2 separate regions of the Homo sapiens genome follow, and region 2 is linked to region 1. The links come from fine-mapping of genetic effects on plasma protein levels. Region 1 holds a variant in brackets. A gene starts in the other region. All regions are shown on their forward strands.

Region 1 (10,007 bases):
TGGTTTTCACCTGAGCCAACTGCCCCTTTAGAACCAAAAGAACACATAGTAGCTAGAATTGGAGGTGGCGTAAGCACAGGCACTAGTTCTTAAGGGTTTATCTCTGGGCCACTTAGCCAAGTCCAAAGCATCCAGATAAGAATGCCCATCTGAGTCCGACCCGCCAAGGCTGTGAAAATTCCCTTGCAGAATCACTAGGCAGTTTGCTGAAATGGCCAGTCTAGGCCGCAGGGGTAGAAGTGGGATGGGGGCTCAGACTGGTGACTTTGTTGTGATTGACTCCCCCTCTCTCTGGCTGATTCCTTTAGCTTTATAACTGAGGCCAAGTTTGGCAGACTGTGGCTGATGAGGGTGGGGCAGGGGACAGTAATAATAATCATTATTACTATTATATAGCTAACATGACACCGCACCACACACCACACTCATGCCTTTGGTGTCCCTCCAGACCTAGGGCCCTCCCTAGATGGGAACTGAGGCCTGGGAGGTCTCCTGGATGGACCAGCTGCTGTCCTGAGGTTCAGCAGCACCTGTCTGGATGGGCCCTCCTCCTCAATTTAACGCATACACAGCCAGGAAGAGGCAGACATGACCTACCTTGTGTCATCCAGGGCCTTCTGTGGTTGACGCCTGGAGCCCATGTTTTCCTGTCTAAATCCACTTTGCTAGTTACATGCGGTCAACACTGAGTGGCAGGTTTTGGGGGAGGGGATATTTGGGTTAGACCATGAAGGATGGGGGAGGATAGTGACAAGTAGAGGCAAGGAAAAAAGTGGGCATGGGAGGTGGGAGGACCAGCAGGGCTAAATGCATGGAGAGGATCCGGTGGGATTTGTATCAGGAATAGGGGTTGCCCAGTTAGGTGTGAAAGTGGGACATCAAACTGGGGAAGTCGGCCAGGGCATGTTGTGAAGGCTGGGCTCCTTGTGACAAATCTGTGCTCCTCACGGAAGATCTGACGGTATTTAAGGATGAGACTGTAGGGCGCTTTAGACTAGGTTCTCTTTAGGAATTAGGAAATGCTCAGGGGCCCAGAGCTGCCATTGTGGAGAAAGAGCAGAGGAGTGGGAAGGAATTAGTTGGAATCTTCACGTGCGTCTCGATGCCCAGCAAGACAGACGTGTTCTTGCTCGAGTGTGAGCCGAAGGGGCTTTAGCGGATGGGCATAGTTCGTGGGTGCTGAGTCAGTGATGTGCAAGTTGACACGTGCTGCCTGGTCCAGGCTTTCTGAGTTCCGGAACCTGAGTGGAGAACATGGCTTACACGTGGGGAGCTCCACCCACTGCACGCCCCGCCCCCTTGGGGCCGACTGTCTGGGCTGATGGCACCACCTTATGGTCAGAGAGGGAACTGTCTGGCTACACAGTCCTCACGACTCTGCCTGCCTGGAAAGTTCTGATATTGGGTCTCCAGCCTTCTCCCCAGTTTCCTTTCCTTTTCTTAGCAAATCAATTAATGCAGATTTAGCCAATCTCCTCGCAATAACATGCCTTAATCCCCCCATCAAAGAGATCTCTTTCACACTTATTTTCCCTCTTGCTCCCCTATCCGTTGCTGTTTTCCTTTGTGAGTCTCAAATTTACCCTAATCCTGGCTCCTGTGCATCATACCTGTATGAAGGAAAATGAAAAAAGGTATCAAGGTGAAACCGGACAGAAAAAAATAACAAACTGCTGCTATCAGGCCTCCCAAATTATCTTGCAAGCAGAGGTCTCTCCCTAAAAAGCCTCCATCTCCCAGCACTTTGGGAGGCTGAGGTAGGTAGATCGCTTGAGCCCGGGAATTCGAGACCAACCTGGGCAACATGGCAAGACCCCGTCTCTACAGAAAATACAAACATTAGCCAGACGTGGTGGTATGTGCTTGTAATCGCAGCTACTCGGGAGACTGAGGTTCTGGGAGAATGGCTTGAGTCCAGGAGGTTGAGGCTGCAGTGAGCTATGATTGCACCACTGTACTCCAGCCTGGGTGACAGAGCAAGACCCTGTCTCAAAAAAAAAAAAGCCTCTATCTTTGCTCTTATCTTTTTTTCATTAAACTGGTTATTTCATTAAATATAATTCAGGATAAAGGAGATTATATCTTCAATATTTGGGTTTGTTTATTCTTAATACTATAACCAAATTATATTCTACTAATTTATACCATAAAAGTGCAGTGCCCAACAACACAATGAGTTAAGAAGGATTTTGTGGTGCTGGCCTGTAAACCTATCATGTATAATATTGTTTCTTGGAAGAAAATATATTCTGAGTTCCCCAAACAACCAACTTTGGAAGTGTGGGAACACAACGCTTTTGTGAATTGGGCATTTCCTCTCTGTCACAGATCAATAGTCAAACCATTCATGGATTGACTGGAAATACAAAAGAAAAAAAAGCATTAAAAAAACCCCCAAGAGAGTAGGAACACAATAAACCCATTTACTGGAAGGAATATAAAGTAGTAAACACTGGGCATCTGACTGTAGTCTGAGTTTTGTTAACGCCTTTCTCTGAAGCCTGAATGGTATTCCAGAAGGCCTCTCTGTTTTACATGGGTCATAATTTTTTCTTCCTTGTTGTATCTTGAGACAAACTCCAGGAGAACGTATCCCAGGCAAGGGGCTGCCTGGCTTCCATGGAGAGTACTGGTTGGGCCCAGAGGCAGGCATTGTGGTGCTGGAATAGTATGATAGAGCTCTCTCTGGGTGGGTTTTAACTTTGGTTGGAGAATGGTTGGATGTCAAGTGGCTGAAGGAAGAATCTTTTTGTGGGGCAGTTTTCTAGGGAGCCACATTTTGAAAGCTCCAGGAAACGACCAAATCTATTAATGTGATTTAACTTTCAGTATGTTATCAGGGTCCATCGGACCCAATTTTAGATTTTGAAGGTGTTTTTTTTTTTCCTGAGAAATTCTAACAATTTGTAAGGATTGGTATTTCATGACTTTTGTTTGTTTTCAGAAGTCTTCTGAAGATGAAAGATAACATCTAGTTTTTAACAAAAATAGAATAAAACTCATTCTATCTTGAAGTTACCATATGACTATTGAAATAATTTATAAATTGATGATGTATCATAGGATCTTAGAGATCTTAATTTTCTTATATCTTTAAACATCTTCCATTTTATCACCCTAGAAATTATTTCATCATTACTCATCAATTATTGCCAATTATGGTAAAAAAAAAAAAAACACCAATAAGAAATGGGAGAATCATGGAATCACCTAGAAGGATGATGCAAGAATGAAACAAATTATCACTGTTGTATCATCCTTCAGGTTTTTGATCACATTGCCTGAAGTATTACATCATTTCTCGAGAAAGTATAAAAGAAGACAGAGGATACCATTTTTGTAGTCTTCTTCTTCTTACTTTTATCAAATATAGTTGTAAATTCAGCTATATTTTTCATTTTTCTGCACAAACTGTAAAGAGAAGAAAAGTGACAGAGGAAAATGTTGTACAGTTATTAGTCAAATCAGAAGATGAATGCAGAGAGACAGCACTATGGAAGACTCGATAATGGCGAAACTGACTGAAGTGTATAAGCAAAGTCTCAGACTATGAGTCCTACATGATAATAACCTAGATTAATTTCCTCAGATTTAAGGATTCATGAGTAAACAATATATTTCTAAGGATAACAAAAAATATGATATTCTCATCCTGTTAGTCATTCAACAGGAATGATTTCATCACACTATATTTTGCCGCAAAAACTTGGAGCATCCTGTTTTGCTAAAAGAATGGGGGCCAATTTTTTTTTTTTTTACTTTTTATGTTTGTTTATTGAAATTTTCTTGATACAGTTTGAAGGGGACAAATGATGAAGTCAGATCAAAGGTGAGTACAAAGATGATTGAAAAGAAATAGGTGGTATGGAAAGGAAAGAAAAAAATCACTGGACTAAACATTCTAATTGGTGTTTATAAATTTAAAAATAAAAATGCTTTTCAATTACAGAGAAAAGAAGATGACCATCTTCTCCTGAACAAAATTATGAACTGTCAGAGGTTTCAAAGGTAATAAGTTTTATGATGCAAGTGGAAGAAGAACCAGAAGTAATGATGAGCTAGAACTTATCAGAGATTTCCTTGAAATCAGGACTTGGTGTTTATAAGATGGGTCTGTCCCAGGCTTATGCATGACAGCTGGTGAGCAGTTAGTTGCATGCAGAGGACATTGCTCATTTTGGGCCTATCTACACTCAAAACCAGGAAAATATGCTGTGAAAATTTGCTATTACTAACGTCTCTAATAAAGTTTTAAAAAACGATCCTTTTAGTCTTACTTCTGTAGATTTATTCATAAACATAGAAAGGATCCATTGGACCCTGATGGTAAAAGATGATGATGACATTTTCCTGCTACACCGGGGGCTAAGAGTTTAGGGGCAAAATATTAAAACAAAAATGAAGTAAACTCCTTTAGCAAATGGGAGTCACTGTAGAGGTCTCCATCCATTCCCAGCCCTTTCTTACACAGGCCCACCATTGATTGATGATTACTTTAAAGATGGATGGTTTGAATGTGAGACATCGTCACACAGCCTCTCTGTTTATTCCTTTCTTTGGTGTAACTCAGTTCTTCTCAAATTCTGGTGGTGATAAGAATTACTATACAGGACTGATAGAATATCTCATGGACATTATATCTTAATGAATATTTTACAGACGTTTTAAGATTAATTTTGACCACAGAAGCTTTTCACTTTGAAGATTTTAGAATCTAACCCACTCTGACATATATTCATTCATTCAACAAACTCTTGTGCATGTCTGTGTACTAGATTAGGTGTTGCATCCTGGGAAACGGAAAAGATAGACACAGTTGCTGCCCTTATTGTGGTAGCAATCCAGAGGGAGGAAGCAGTAATTTTTATAGCATCACATGGCAGGAGTTACGATACAGATGAACCAGGAGAATGGGTGAGGGACATGGGAAAGGTGTCAACGATGAAAAATGTTAGTTTTTATACTCACTTAAAAAAGTAGAAATTGGATCCTGGAGAATTGGAGGGTGGCATTTCGAGGATGGAGAAGAGGAGAAAGAAGAATCCAGGCAGATGGACCAACACACGCAGAGGCCTAGAGGAGCGAGCAAGCAGCATGTTGCAGAAGCTGGGTGATTTGGCATGGCTAGGAGGGACCGTGTTTCGGGGAGGAGAGGACCCACAGTTGGAACCTTGACTGGGGTTAGACCCCAGGACTTGGTATATCTGGCTTCATCTGCAAGTAACAGAAAGCCCAGCGCAAACCTCTTAAACAATAAAGGAGAGTGCATTGTTCCAGGAAGTCCTGAGGACGTGGGAACTGCAGATGGATTGGAGGGGAGACCCCTGAGTCAGGGACCCATTGAGAAGTCAGGTGGTAAATTGGAAATGGGAAGGAAGAGGTGATTTTGAGGAGCGTGTAGGGACAAACTGGCATGATAACCAAGTTTCGCACAGAAAGCGTAAGTGAGAAAAACGATGGCAGTTTAAAGCCTCTCTTTGATTATCCCCTTGTCACCTTTCCCTCCCTCCTGTCCTATAACACCTTTCCCACCCCTCCTTCGCCATCCCCCATCTCCAGCAAAGACCCCAGGAGTGATGTTTGGTATCCTCCTTTCCTTCACACCTCGGCATGAAACTCACCATCAATTCTTGCTGTTTTCCTCTTCCCATTTCCACCCTCCAAGCCTCAGTTAACTCTGTCTTGAACCACTGCCGGGTTAACCAGCTGGTTTCTTGTGTCCACTTTCACTTGCCAATACTCTCTCCAATCCAAATTCTCTGCATCATATGTAGCCAGATTAATAATGAT[TA/T]AAAAAAAAAAAAACCAAACCACCAAACGAAAAGCCCCCAAACCAAATCATACCTCTCACTTGCTTAACTCCAGAGGCCTCCTTGGAATAAAATCCACTCCTGTCCACATGGAAGGCCCTGGGAGATCTGGCCCTGCTGGTGTGCAGATCTCATGGAACCTACTCTCTCATTTCCTCATTCCCTTCTGGTGCCTTTTTTTTTTCTTTCTTTTTTTTGAGATGGAGTTTCGCTCTTGTTGCCCAGGCTGGAGTGCAGTGGTGTGATCTTGGCTCACTACAACCTCTGCCTCCCGGGTTCAAATGATTCTCCTGCCTCAGCCTCCTGAGTAGCTGGGATTACAGGCATGCACTACCACGCCCGGCTAAGGTTGCATTTTTTTAAATTTTTTTTTTTTTGAGATGGAGTCTCGCTCTGTCGCCCAGGCTGGAGTGCAGTGGCGTGATCTCGGCTCACTGCAAGCTCCGCCTCCCGGGTTAACACCATTCTCCTGCCTCAGCCTCCAGACTAGCTGGGACTACAGGCGCCCGCCACCACACCCGGCTAATTTTTTGTATTTTTGGTAGAGATGGGGTTTCACCATGTTAGCTAGGATAGTCTCAATCTCCTGACCTCGTGATCCGCCCGCCTTGGCCTCCCAAAGTGCTGGGATTATAGGCGTGAGTCGCTGTGCCTGGCCCTGGTGCCTTTTTTCTTTACTGCAAATTAGCCAAGCTTTTCCCCCTGCTTTAGGGTCTTAATGTAGGCTGTTCCTGCAAATCAGAGGTCTCGCCCAGTTATTACCTTGTTTATTTATTTGTTTTAATGGTTTCTTGCCTTATTCCTTCTCCTACCCAAAATGAATGATAAATTCCCTGATGGAGAGGACGTTGCCTGCCATGTTCAACGTCCAATCCCCAGCACCCACTACAATGGTTGACACACAGCTTTAAATGTGTGTATGTGCGCCTGTGTGTGTGTGGTTGTGTGTGTGTGTGTTGGATGACAAAAGGCCCCTAGTTCCGTTTGCGGAACTGGGACTCAGAGAGGGGGAGCCCAGTTTGCAGAGGAAGGTGTCGAAAGCAAGGGATGAGCAGGCCATTCAGGTGAGATGTACAATAGACAATTCAGATCCTCCTTACTCTTGTAGCACTTCCTCATTCCATACTGCTTTATGCGGAGATTATTTATAGGTTAAAAGTGCTTTTGTAGACATGGCCCCTTTAGACCTCTCTACAACCTTGGAAGGGAGTAGAATGATTATTCCCATTTTACAGATTAAAACCTCGAGCACAGAGATTCTTGTCTGAGGCCCACACAGCTGGAAGGCTCTAAGTCCAAATTTGAACCTGGGTATTCAAATCCCCAGATCTTTGTATTTTATTATGGTTTTAGAAGTCATGACCCATTTTCTCCACCTTTACCAGTGAACAATAAGGATGACGAATCATGTTGCAAAACACTTTCATTTTGATGCTGATCAAACTGAGCTTAGTTTGCACGTGTATATATATATATATATATATATATATATATATATATATATATATATAGGCTAAGCCATATATATGTGCGTATGTATATATTTTCTCCCTAAGATCTTAAAACCTCGAGAAAGGCAGAAGAACTAGGGAGAGATAAAAATATAACTAGAAGAAAGGGCTCAGAGGGAACAAATGAAAAGAAACAAAGGTAGGATTATAAACTAAAAGAAAGACAAAGAACATATTTAAATTATTCTTGTTTTTTGGCAAGGTTATCAACAAAAAGATGTGGGTAACAAGATAAATTAGGCACACTAAACTAAAGCAAGAAGGCTTATAATTGATGAAGAAAAAAAAAGAAGAAAACAGTTCCCTTGGGGGAGGCAGAAGAAAAGCGAGGCGGGGCAGAGGGAGGTGGCCATGGATCAGCACAGCTCAGCCTGGCCAAGCCATTCCCATACGGTGAGCACTGGAGGCCCAGCATGTGGTGGGTGTTTAGGGAAGACAGAAAAGAGGAAGATGTTAGGCCCTTGACTTCAGTTTGCTGATGGCAGCCACATGGGGAAAGGTTCGAGGGCAAGGAGAGATGATCTATGGGGTGCGCAAGTGGGGATGGCTTTGGTGTGGGTGGGAAGGGTAGGGGCTTGGAGCTAGGTGTCGAGGGATTCGAGTCTCAGCCTTGATGTGGATTAGCTGTGTGACCATGACCAGATTACTTAACCTCTCTGAGCTTCAATCGGGTCAACATAGGCACAGGAATAACACTATGTACTTTATAGGTTGTCATGGGGTTAAATGTGATCATGTGTCGCAAATGTTGCTCAGTGTTTGGCGCCTGGCAGGCACTGCATAGCCATTGATTCCCTCACTGATCAAAGCAGGGGGTAGTGGCTGTGGCCATTCTGTGACAGGAATCTGAGTCTCAGTAAGAGTTGTGACTTTCTGTTCCTTTGGGCACTGTCTTCAAATCCTCAGAAGGCAGGAAGCAAGGAAACAGAGTCAGTGAGCTGTTCCCCCGTTCCCCCCGGTTGGGTGGCTCCATCTAGACTTGGAGATTGGGGTGGCTTTGATTTGTGAGGAAGCTGTGTGGGTCGTAACTGGGTACGTTTTTATTTGCGGGTTACTGTGTGCAGTAACTTACCACATTTGCTCTTTGAAAACGCCTTAATGGGCTGCTGTAGTAGAAAGAGAAAATCTTTCATTGGTATGTGTATGTCGTCCAAATGGTATTTTTAAAGATTTATTTTTGTGTGTTCACGATGTTCTTGAATAATGTTTCCATAAGTACGGTCAAAGATAAAACTTGAGCGGTGCACGAAATCTGGTCGTGCATATTTTAGAGTGTGACCGTCTTTTGACCAGCCGTGGGATCCATTTGTCAAGTTCTTCACTGACTTGTGTTTCCTTAGGAGGACTTGCTTGAGCCGGCTCGCTGATGGAGAAACTTCTGAACATGGGCCAAGCTAATGGTGATGGCCCTGTTGAGTGTCACCCTTTCTCCTTTTACCTGCAGCAGTGTGGCTCTCCAGCGGGACTAGTGGAGGCCAGAGCCTCATAGCTCAGTCATTTATCAACAAACAGCTGATGAGTACCTTTGATGTGCTGGGTGCTGTGTGGGGATTTGGGGGACACAGGTTGACTTAGATGGACAAACCAGCTGGTCACATGCAGCCAATCAAGTAACAAGAAAAGGGACGTGACTAAGGTCCTATGCTAGTCAGGGTGGTCAGGCAATGACTGAACTGGGGTCATTTCTCCAGGAACTTGAAAGACACAAAAAAGCCAGCCAGGGAAAAGCAGTGCAAGTGCAGAGGCCCTGGGGCTGGGATAAGTTGGCCTGTTCAAATAATGGAAAATGGGTTGGCACTGTGGTGGGAATGTATGTCCCCTCCAAAACTCATGTTGAAATGTAATCCCCAATGTAGCAGGATTGAGAAGTGGGGCTTTTAAGAGGTGGTGGGTTATGAGAGCTCTGCCCTCATGAATGGATTAATTCACTTGTGGGTTAATGGATGAATGGGTTATCATGGGAGGGGAACTAGTGGTTTTATGAGAAAAAAAAGACCTGGGCCTGCATGCTCAGCCTCCTCATTATGTGATGCCCTGCGCTGCCATGAGACTCTGCGGAGAGTCCCAAGCAGCAAGAAGGCCTTGGCAGATGCTCCCCCTCGACCTTGGATCTCTTGGCTTCCATAACTGTAAGAAATATGTTTCTTGTCTTTATAAATGACCCAGTTTCAGGTATTCAGCTATAAGCAACAGAAAACAGACTAAGACAGTTGGTGTGGCCAGAGCCTAGCGAGTGCTAGGAGGGTGGCAAGAATGAGTGCCCTAGGGTCAAGGGCCAGGGGAAGGAGTATGGATTTTATTGTAAAACATGATGGAACTCTTGAGCCCTGTAGGACTTGGAGGAGAAGGGCAGGGAGGGTACGCTAGGCAGAGGAAGCACTGGGCAAAGGCTGGGCAAGGGCACGGCTTTTAGGGCCTGGATAGACTGTGGTGGCCTGGGCAGTGCTTATCTCCCTTCACGTCTCTGCTCCTGTTTGCAGCTCTGCCTCCTCCGTGGCTCTGGGCCACCTGGCAGGAAATGGCCTCCCCTAACTCTGGAATGTTGCACCTCTGCTGTACAGAGCCCAGCCCAGAGCGAGCTGGAGTCTCTCAGCTCCGGTTCCAAATTCGTAATAGTTTCTAATTCCAGAGGAGAATCTGATTGGCTCCGATCCCTACTCCGATGTCTGTGGTCATGTGGTGTGAA
Region 2 (9,699 bases), not on the chromosome of region 1:
TTCCCTCCACTCAGTTTTCCTCATCTGCAAAGTGAGAACGAGAAAGCTCTTTGTCTCCTGGGGTATTGTGAAAGTCAGAGGGGAAAGGACTTCCTGAACCAGGTTGTGTGTGAGTCAGGTACTAGGCACAGGAAACTTGGGGACGCCCATGGGTGGTTGATGCCTCTCTCTCCTGCTGGCCATCAGGGCAGCCCAGGAGTTCCCCTTCTGGAGACCAGAACCTTGTCCATAGGGAAACCAAGGCCCAGAGGAGGAGGGGGTGCACAGGCCAACCTCCCAATGCCTCTCTGAGTCTCAGTTTCCCCATCTGGAAAGTGGACATCATGGCGTCAATGTCATGGGGTTGGCTGGGTGCGGTGGCTCATGCCTGTAATCCCAGCACTTTGAGAGGCTGAGGTGGGAGGATCACGTGAGGTCAAGAGTTTGAGACAGCCTGGGCAACATGGTGAAACCCTGTCTCTACCAAAAATACAAAAATTAGCCAGGTGGGGAGGGGGTGGTGGCCCCATGCCTGTGGTCTTAGCTACTTGGGAGGCTGAGGCAGGAGGATCGCTGGAGCCCGGGAAGTTGAGGCTGCAGTGAGCCATGACTGCACCACTGCACTCCAGCCTGGGTGACAGTGAGACCCTGTCTCAAAAAAGAAATAAAAAATTTAGATTTAAATTTATAAAAACCAACAAAACAAACCTCATGAGGTTGTTTGAGAGGAGTGAAAATATTGTTGGAGACAATATTTTCCCATGAGATCTTTAAACCAAGTTGACCTGGACTCGAATGCCCCCAGCCTGACTCAGTGTTCTACTTTTTTTTTTTTTTGAGACAGAGTCTCACTCTGTCACCCAGGCTGGAGTGCAGTGGCACAATCTCGGCTCACCATAACCTCCACACCCAGCTAATTTTTGTATTTTTAGGAGAGACGGAGTTTCGCCATGTTGGCCAGGCTGGTCTCGAACTCTTGACCTCCAGTGATCCACCCGCCTTGGCCTCCCAAAGTGCTGGGATGACAGGCGTGAGCCACTGCACCCGGCCTCAGTGTTTTACTTCTTTGAGCCTCTGGAAAGGGGCTTCTCGTTCCACACAGAGTGGTTGTAAAGACTCATCCACGCCTTTGTTCGTTCACGCGTTCATCTATTCATTCACAGGGTACCTATAGTGTGTCCGGATCTGTGGGCACTGGGGTGATGCCCAAGACACACAAAAGTCCTGCCCTTGTGGGCATCAAATCCAAGGAAGCAGCAGGAAAAAGGAATAAATAAATATCTAAGACAATAACTAGGGGAGAAAGTAAAGCAGGGGCTGGAGGAAGACAGAGCAGCGGCAGAAGCTTGGGAGGCCTGTCTGGGGAGGTGACCTTTGAGCAGAGACCTGAATAAAGTAAGAGAAGTAGCTGTGACATTATCTAACAGAGCATGTCCAGGCAGTGGGAGCTGCAAGTGCCAAGGTCCTGGGGCAGAAGCGGTGGGAAATGAGGTTTGAGAGGTCAGAGACCCTGACCTGCAGGGAGGAGGGATTCCAGGGTTCTCAGCCGGGGAGGGAGGGATGCGGTGAGATATGCGTTAAAAGGACTCCCCAGGCGGCTGGAAGAAGGGACTGCAGGAGGCAGGGGCAGCCCAGCTTCGCAGAGATGGCAGCCAAGGACAGGGTGATCCTGGCCCCCAGGGAGGCCCCCTGAATGCCAGCGCTGCCCTGCACTTGCCCTCACTGCCCCAGATGGGCGAGGTGGGGTGGACACGGTTCTTGGGCCGGCCCTGATGATTTTCCGGGGCAAACTTGGCTCGAGGGCTCTGTCTCGCTGGAGCCTGGAATCGCAGTTGCGCTTGGGGCTTGGCCCAGGGCTCGCCGGAGGTCTCCGCGTCCGTGCGAAGGAGCCGGCTGAGCGGGCCAGAGCCGAGGAGGCGGGGGCGGCCGAGGGGGGCGGGGGGCTGGGGGCCAGGGGACCGCCCTGGAGGTCCCAGGCAGCCAGCCGCCCGCTAATTCGGAATTCCTTTTGCATGAACTCGGGTGTGCCAGCGTCTCTGCCCCGGCCCACCCACCGCTTCCTGCCTGGGCCCCCCCAACAGAGTGGGAGGCACGGCCAGGCCTGCCCAGACCCCAGGCCCCTCTCAGCCCTTCTAGAGTGGGTCTCACTCCTCCTGCCCCCACCACCCGCCAGCTTGGCCTGGGCAGGAAGGGGCTCTCTGGGGGGTCCTGGCTGGGGGGCGCTGCCCCTCTGCCACACCCGCCTGGCCTGGGCCGGCGTGGCTCACTTGCCAGCAGCTGCAGCTGCCCTCCCGGGGCTGGGCGGGGGACACCGGGCGGCGACGGGTTGTAGGGGGAAGGCAAGGCCAGGCGGGCCTGGACAGACCAATCTCCCACCCCCTTAGCCCCAGCCGGTAAGGTCAGAAGGACACTTTCTCCTCCCGGGATATGGGCGCAACACCAGTGGGAGAACCTGGCCAATTGACTTCCCCTCTCCAGTTCTCAATTTTCTCCTCCATAAAATGGGAGGAGAAATACGTTCTACTTGCTGGGGAGATCAATGAGATGTGATTGCAATCCAATGTCCAGAGGGCTCAGAAGCCTGAAGCCCCCAGGAGCTGCAAAGATGACAGCCCCTCCCAGCTCTGGGGTCCCGGCTGACTAGGCACTCCCTCCAGGCCTCCACAAACAATGGGCTAAGGCGCTGGGGACAGAGATGCACGCACTCCAGGCCAGGCAGGGGAGCAGCTGGGAACAGCCCACTGAGCCGGAGTTGGTGGGGGCTTGGCTTGGTTTGGAGGGCCTCCTAGGGCTCCCCAAAGCAGATCCCTAGGTTGGGCTTTTGAACAGCTCCCTTTTCACTCCCTGCCTCCCCTCCTTTCCCGCAGAGCTGGGGCCTTTAAAAGTTTTTTCTCTCCTCTTTTCCCAATCTGGAGCCACTGCCGTTATTAAAAAGGAACACCATGTGTTTTAAAAGGGAAAAGTGTGAGATTCTCTGCAAGCAGGGCGGAAGGGTGGCCTCCATCCCAGGGTCCCCACGGGGGTCCCCATCTCCCGTCCCGCTGGTACCTGCAGACACTTTACGACCCACCCGCCTGCTGGTCAGGTGCTAAGACACACCGTAAGTAGAAACATATTGCCGAGGTGTGAGAATCTTTTATTTAATTTCTTCCCCCCTTAAAGGAAAAAACACACTTACAGTGCCCCCCCACCCCCTACACCTTCGCCTGCTGCTCTACTGGCTGAAAACAAAGCTTGGCGCTCACAGTGGCACTCACAGGCGCTGCCCACCGCCTGGCAGAGCCGTCAGGGGCCCTGGGAGGGCCCGAGGTAGCCCCTCACCTGAAAGCCAGGGGAGAGCCAGGCTTTCAGCAAGTGCCCCTAGAAGATGCCCGGACCCTGCCCCTTCCCGGAGGAGCCCTACAGGCAGCCCGCAAACAGCCCAGCACAGGGTGGATGAGCCTGGGAGCAGTGTGTGCCCGGCGACCCCCGGGGTGGCCCGTGCGCCTGGATGGGGTGCGTGGAGTGACTGAACATCTGGGGCGAGTGGTGCCTGCCTCTGTGCCCCTGGGTCGCCTCCCCTGTGGGATGTGTGTGACCGTGAATGTGTGTGTCGGGGATGGAATGTGTGTGCGTCCGCGATGGTGCGCGAATGTGCACCTGGGATGCAGTGTGCGCGAGTTTGAGGGCGAGGGTGACGGGCCACAAGCCAGTGTGATTCTTTGTGTGTCTCTGGGTGTGTCCCAGAGCGGGTCTGCATACGGAGACGTATCCTTGCGGGGGTGTTCCTTGGATGGGGGGCCCCAGAGTGCCTGAGGCCAGAAGTCCCTCCAGGGCAGGGGTCTTGGCCCGTAGGGCAGCGGGTTCCCAGTGGGCCCCCTCAAAGTTTGGGCCCGCTGGTGCCCGGACTCACTGGCTCCCGCTCCCTCTCCCTCTCACCCACTCGCTCACAAAGATTCCTCTCGCTGGAGGCTCTCCGCCCGACGCAGCCTGGCTGAAAACGGTTCTAAGCGCCGCCGGTGGCGGGGACTCCGCGGACCCCCGTGCGCCGGGTCCCGCAGGGGGAGGGCGGTGGCGCCGGCCCGTGGAGACACAAGTCCCCCGGGACCCCGGGCTGCGCGCCAGGCGGCCAGAGCGGCCCCCCTGCAGCCCCGCCCTCCCCGTGGGGCTCATCCCTCCGCCTGGGGGGGCCCGCTGGGGGCCCGCACCCAGCGCGCCAACCGCGTGCGCCCCCGCCTGGGAGCGGTGCCCTGCAGTCCCAGGGGCCCAGAGTCCACCGAAGCAGACGCGTGCGCCCGCCACGTCCTGGCATGCAGAGGGTCTCAGGCCGCGATCCCCCCAGCCCCCGGGGGCCTGGCCTGGCGCCCTCGGCCCAGCTGCCCAGGTAACAGGGCCTCGGGCGCGGAAGCAGGACTCTCTGGACAGTGGACTGCGGCGCCGTGTGCCCCGCAGGTGAGGGCGCCCCGAGGGCTGCGCCGGGGGCGCCTTCCTTTGTTCCCCGGCCGTCCAGGTGGCGCCCGCGCCCCCTCCCCCCGCGGCTGCCCCCGGGGCGCCCGCCCTCTGCTCTGGCAGGGGGGAAGGAGTGGGGCGCCGGGTACTCACGGGCTCCTGATCCGGCTCGCGGCGCCCCGAGGACGCAGAGCAGCAGCAGCAGGGGCAGCAACGGCGGCGGCCGCCGCGCGGATTGGGCGGCGGGGCCCCGGCGGCCGGCGGGCATGGGGCCGGCGCTGCCGGGGGCGCGCGGCGGGCTGCGGCTCGGCGGCGGTGGCGCAGGGCGCGGGACGCAGGCCGGGCGCGGGAGGGCGCGGGCCAGGCCGCCCGCACGTCGCTGGGCGCGGACGCGGAGGCCGGAGCAAGTCTGAGCAGCCGAATTGACAAGGCGCTAATGCGCCGCTGGCCCCGCCCGGCCCCGCCCCCGGCCCGGCCCGGCCCCGGGGGGGCGGCGGGCCCCGCACCGGCCTCCCCGCCGCCCGCCCGCCCGCGGGCACCGCGCGCCCCGCCCGTCCCGCCTCCGCCCCACCGAGAACCGCGCGCGCCCTATCCCGCGGCCCAAAGCCCCCTAACTCAACCCCTACCGGCCCAGGACCTCCCTCTCCAACCCTGCCAGCTCCAGGCTTCCCACCCCCAGTCTGGGACCCGGCACCCCCAATCCCGTTTCCATAACCCTGCCCACTTCCCTGCACCCTCCTCTCAGCCCAGTGCCTCTTCAGTGGCCCCTTTGGTCCCCAACCCTGCCCCACTCCTCCATTCCCCCTTCCACGGCCCAATCTTCTGTCTCGGCCCCCACCCCAGCTCTGGCCCCGCCCCCCCCACCGAGCGGTCCTTGAGTCCCGCCTACCCCCATCTCCAGCCCCTCAGCCTTCCCAGGGGCCTAAAAGTCACCCCCAGCCCCACGCCCTCGGCGCGCGGGTTCCAGCCCTCCCACCTCATCCTGCCTCTTTTCGATTCTCCGCGAGTAGCCTCGGCCCCAGGCTTTGCTGGAAGAAAGGAGAAAAAGCAGGAAGGCACGGAGTCCCTCGCCTTCGCCCTGGCTGCGCTGTCCCCTTCGCGCGCGGGATGGGTTTGAGGTTGCTCTGGGCGCCCCGGGGGCCTCGGGAGGGAGCTCCTGCGTGGGCAGACGGGGAGATGTAGTCCCCTGTGGGAGCCGGGACCCAGGCCTGCGCGGGAACTGGGTCCCGCACCGCAGTAAGAGGGATTCCCAGGAGGAGAGCGGTAAGAAGCTCTTTCCCCGGGACCTATTCACACCCCGCCACGGAAAAATCCACTCAGCGGCCCGCGGGTGGGGTGCGCCACGCGGTGAGTAATCGCTTCGGCGGCCACCGCCCGCCGACTCCAGGTAACGCCGGCTGCCCGGAGCGACGCATAGTTTGTCTTCCTTCTTTTGCGCAAAGAGCCTTCTCCGTGTTATTATTTTTGGCCATTGCTCGAGTTTCGGGACCCCTCCCGGTCCGGGCGTCTCATCTCCCTCCTCCCGGTCCCCACCCGATGCGGGCGCCCAGGAATAAAGGGTTCCTGGCCTCCAAGGCTGCTGCGGATGGGGGTGCCTGAAATGAGAGTTGGGGGGTGCAATTACCCACTTTTGGTCGCAGCCCCGCCCCCAGCTGCAGCGCCCAGGGAAGGGAACGGCTCCAAGTCCCCTTTTCCAGGAGTCCCTTAGAGGCCTGGATTCTCTCTCCTGGTCCCCAACCAGCCAAGGGGGTAAAAGTGTCTGAGGGGGGCTCAGGAGCCCCCATTTGTCTGCCCAAGACTGAAGCCCCACCCTCTCCTACTTAAATCTCCAGTTCAGACTCCAGACTGTCAAAAAACAAGATTGGGGGATGGGAGCCTATAGGGGCCCAGGGCGCCCCTGCTCCATCTGAATTCTGGATGGAGAAGACAGACAAGGAGAGACGCTGCCATTTACTTCGGGAAACCAGGCCTTTTGTGCCTCAGTTTCTTCCTCTGCACAGTGGGCACCACCCAGTCTAGGAGCTTCTGTGGGAAGACGCAGGGCAGCAGAAGTCTCTACAATCCAAGCCCTTAGCACAGCACTGGAGGATATCCTGGAGCAGAGGTGACCCCCAGCCCTGCTTGTCCCCTCTGAAACATGGAGCCATAGTCCCACCTGCCAGGGGACCCAGAGGGTTAAGTGGAGGTGGCAGTCCTTGGCTGGAATTGAGTTTTTAGGATACTCACCACTACTCCCCCATGGCTCCTGTCTGCAGATGCTCTCTGTGTGGATAGAGACGCCTCACTCCCTCCTGGGAGGACTTCAGGCTTCTGGAGCAAAACCTTGATTTTTTCCTCCCTCCATTTCTGCTTCTCTTCCAGTCATTTTGGTTTTGGGAAAGGGCTCTCCCATCCATCCAGGTGCTCAGGCCAGAGACCTGGAAGCGCACGTGACAACTCTCTCCTTTGCTCATCCCTCATGTCCAATTCATCAGCAAATCCTGTTGGCTCTGATTCTAAAACACATCTCCATTCTGAGATGCTGACCCCTTTTTCCCACCCCATTCAGATCCAGGCCCCACGGTCTCCCTCAGGGATGCTTCCCGGCCTCCTCCAGGGCCTCCCTGATAACCCTTCTGCCTTTCTCGGCACACCAGGCAGAGGGAGCTTTTAAAAGAAGAAAAAGCAGATCTTTGTCCTGCCACCCTCTCGCCATCCTCTCCCCTCCTCTTCTTCCCTCTCCTCTTCCCCCTCCTCTCCCTCATTCCGCCCCAGCCACTGGAGCCCTGTTTCCCAAAACATACCAGGCTTGTTACTATAGAAGGGCCTCTGCGTGTTGGCTGTTCCCTCTGCTGGAATGCTGTTCCCCACATCTTCCCCAGTTGGCCCTTTCTCTTCCATCACTTCACAGGATTAGTGCCACCTCCTCAGAGAGGCCCTCCACCCTTCCCCCAGCACTCTCCCTCTCCTTCACTTTGTTTTATTGTTTTTGAAACACAACTCTTCCAACCATTTCATTTCTTGTGCAACTGATTTTCTTTAGACTGTGGGCAGCCTCAGCCCCTTTGGACCCCAGTGGTGGGCCCAGTGAGGGCTGAAAGCGAAGCACTCACTAAATATTTGTAAAAGTAAAGGATGGAGAACTCTTACTCCCTCCAAGTAGCAAGAAAACTCAGTCCTAGCAAGTCATGCTGCCTGGGGTCCTAGCCTGGCCCACACTCTGTGTCTTGCTGTGTGACCCTAGCCAGTAGACATCCCTCTCTTGTTCTTACCAACAGAAGGGAAGGACCATTTTCCAATCCTGCCCAGCCCCACCCTGGAGTGTGACTTCTGCCCTTGGGTGATCTTTACCCCACACCTTTGACTTCAGGGAAAGGGAATTGACCCCAGAGTGCATCCTTCCCGGCCCTTAGGGCCCCCAGAAGTTTAACCCTTTACTCCCCAGTTCCATTATCTCCTTGAGGACAAAAGGGAGCTAGCGTCAATGGAACTTCTGGCAAATATTGACCCAAGTCCTTGAAGTTGGCTGGGAATGTGTAAGGGGCAGAAGGAGGGAGGGCCTCCCCTTGGGCAGAGGGAGGGCCTCCCCTTGGGCTGGGGGAGGGACCCCTCCTTAGTCCTGCACCCTCCACTCCAAGGTCACCTCTGGATGAGAGGTATTAGGTTGGGGGGGGGGCCTCCATCCCCAGCTCCCTCGTGATTCCAGGGCACTGAGGGTGCACCAGGGAGGGGGCAGTGGAAATGGCACCTTCAGGGTCCTGTGGGGACCCACAACCACTGGGAGTGAGGAAGGCTGAGAGCTGTCTCTCCCATTCTGAAAGCCCCGTGCTCAGGGCTCCCCAGTATGGGATTAGCTACCTGGTGTTCCAGGCAGGTGCTTTCAGGAATTAAGGGGCAGTGAGGGTCTGGACACCTGGTTCAGGGTCTGTGGCACAGGAAAGTGGGGCCCGTGTGTACCTAGGCTTTATAATTTCTGCCCTGGAGGCTGAGCCTGGGGAGAAGCAATGCCTGGGTGCTCAGTGTAATGCACACTGGACTTCAGGCACTGGAGGCGGGACCTGGGGAGTTGCAGACCTGCCTAGGGGACCTGCCTGGGAAGTTGCAGGCCTGCCCCAGGGAGGCCAGTTTCCCTGCCCGTCTGTACCCTGAGAAGCCTCTGAAGTCTGGGTCCCAGGAGGCACCAGCTGCTTTAGGGGGACAGCCACATCCCTCCGTCCTCCCCCAACAACCCTCAGCAACCACCACCGGCGCCATGGTGCTCTGCCTCCTCCCTGGCCTGTACCCTGCTTGGAGGTGGGGGTCAGCAGGGTCGTGGTGAGGGCGGCAAGGGACAAAGGGTGCTTGTCCGCTGCCCGCCTTGACCTCGGCTGCTGTGGCTTCCCGGACGCCTGGCCTGCCGCTGATTCACGCCCAGGCCGGCCTCAGCGCCCCCCGCCTGCCGCCCCCAGCCAGGCCGCCCCGGGGGGTAGGAAGTGGGGGGGGGGGCGAGGGCGGCGCCGAGTCAACTTTCCCTCTTAAGCCCCGAAGGAATGTCGGCGGATTTCCTGAAACCCGACCCTGGCCGCCCGCCGGCCCTCCCGCCCCTCACCTGGACCGGCTCCCCCGGGAACAGCAGGAGGGGCGCGGGGGCTCACCTTGGGGGCCGGGGTCAAGTCCTCTTTCCGCTCACCCCCCCAGCGGCCTAGTGCAGCGGAAAGGGGGCTGGGTGTGCGGCAATCAGCCTCTTTCCCTTCTCCCCTCAGGCGACCTGGGTGATCGACCCACTCCTCCAGCCTCAGTTTCTCCTTCTGCAAAAGGGCGCGGGGTGTCCCTCCTCCCTGATGCGTTTTAAGCAATGCCCAAAGGTCACCTCCCATCATTGGCAGGGCTCTGCCGGCTTTTCTTTGCTTCTCTCCCTGTCACCTGGACAGAACCACTTTGCAGTCTGAGCATCAGTTTCCTCACCCATATAAAAGGGCAACGCTACCGGTACCTGTCTTATACGGTTGTTGCAAGAAAAAGTGTTTCGTTGGAATGAATGAAAGACAGTAATTGTGGAGGGGTTAGGCGCGCGCGGGCCTCTGGAATTAGCATGTGTGGGCTTGAATCCTGACTTTGCCAACGCGTCCCGGAGCCTAAGTTTCCCACCTGTGAAATGGGGGACAGTATTGGTCATAACGCACAGGGCTGTTTCCCAAGGTGCGGGCCTGGCGCGCGGGTGGGTTAGAAGCGGAATTCTCCTGCTGGATTCTGGCGCAAACTGCGGGCTGGAGGCCCTCGCCGCCGGGTCGCAGCGGCCTAGCATGGGAGGGGAGGGGAGGGGCGGGGCGGGGC

Direction of the effects. Alleles are on the strand shown, and positions count from the first base shown. The strength of an association depends on the size of the effect and on how common the allele is.
As copies of TA replace T in region 1, the plasma level of the protein whose gene starts at base 4,818 in region 2 goes down (weak association).

The links. PIP is the posterior inclusion probability: the model's chance that the variant is causal. The UK Biobank Pharma Proteomics Project read protein levels with antibody pairs (Olink). The fine-mapping took linkage between variants from a reference panel, not from the people measured, so its PIPs are less certain.
Region 2: it holds the start of CRLF1, and the variant in region 1 is fine-mapped to the plasma level of the CRLF1 protein (UK Biobank, PIP above 0.99).

What each region holds. Positions count from the first base shown.
Region 1 is chr5:173,330,861-173,340,867 of GRCh38, forward strand. It overlaps LOC124901137 (a long non-coding RNA gene), which reads left to right. Exons shown (of 2, transcript XR_007059056.1): 2 at 3,950-4,262. Among named protein-coding and RNA genes, the nearest start is that of STC2, 7.4 kb to the left of the region's middle. RefSeq lists an enhancer at 1,084-1,223. The variant TA/T (reference allele first, on the strand shown) is at 5,791.
Region 2 is chr19:18,601,982-18,611,680 of GRCh38, forward strand. It overlaps CRLF1 (cytokine receptor like factor 1), which reads right to left and starts at 4,818. Exons shown (of 9, transcript NM_004750.5): 1 at 4,561-4,818. The coding sequence starts at 4,675. RefSeq lists an enhancer at 3,940-4,858.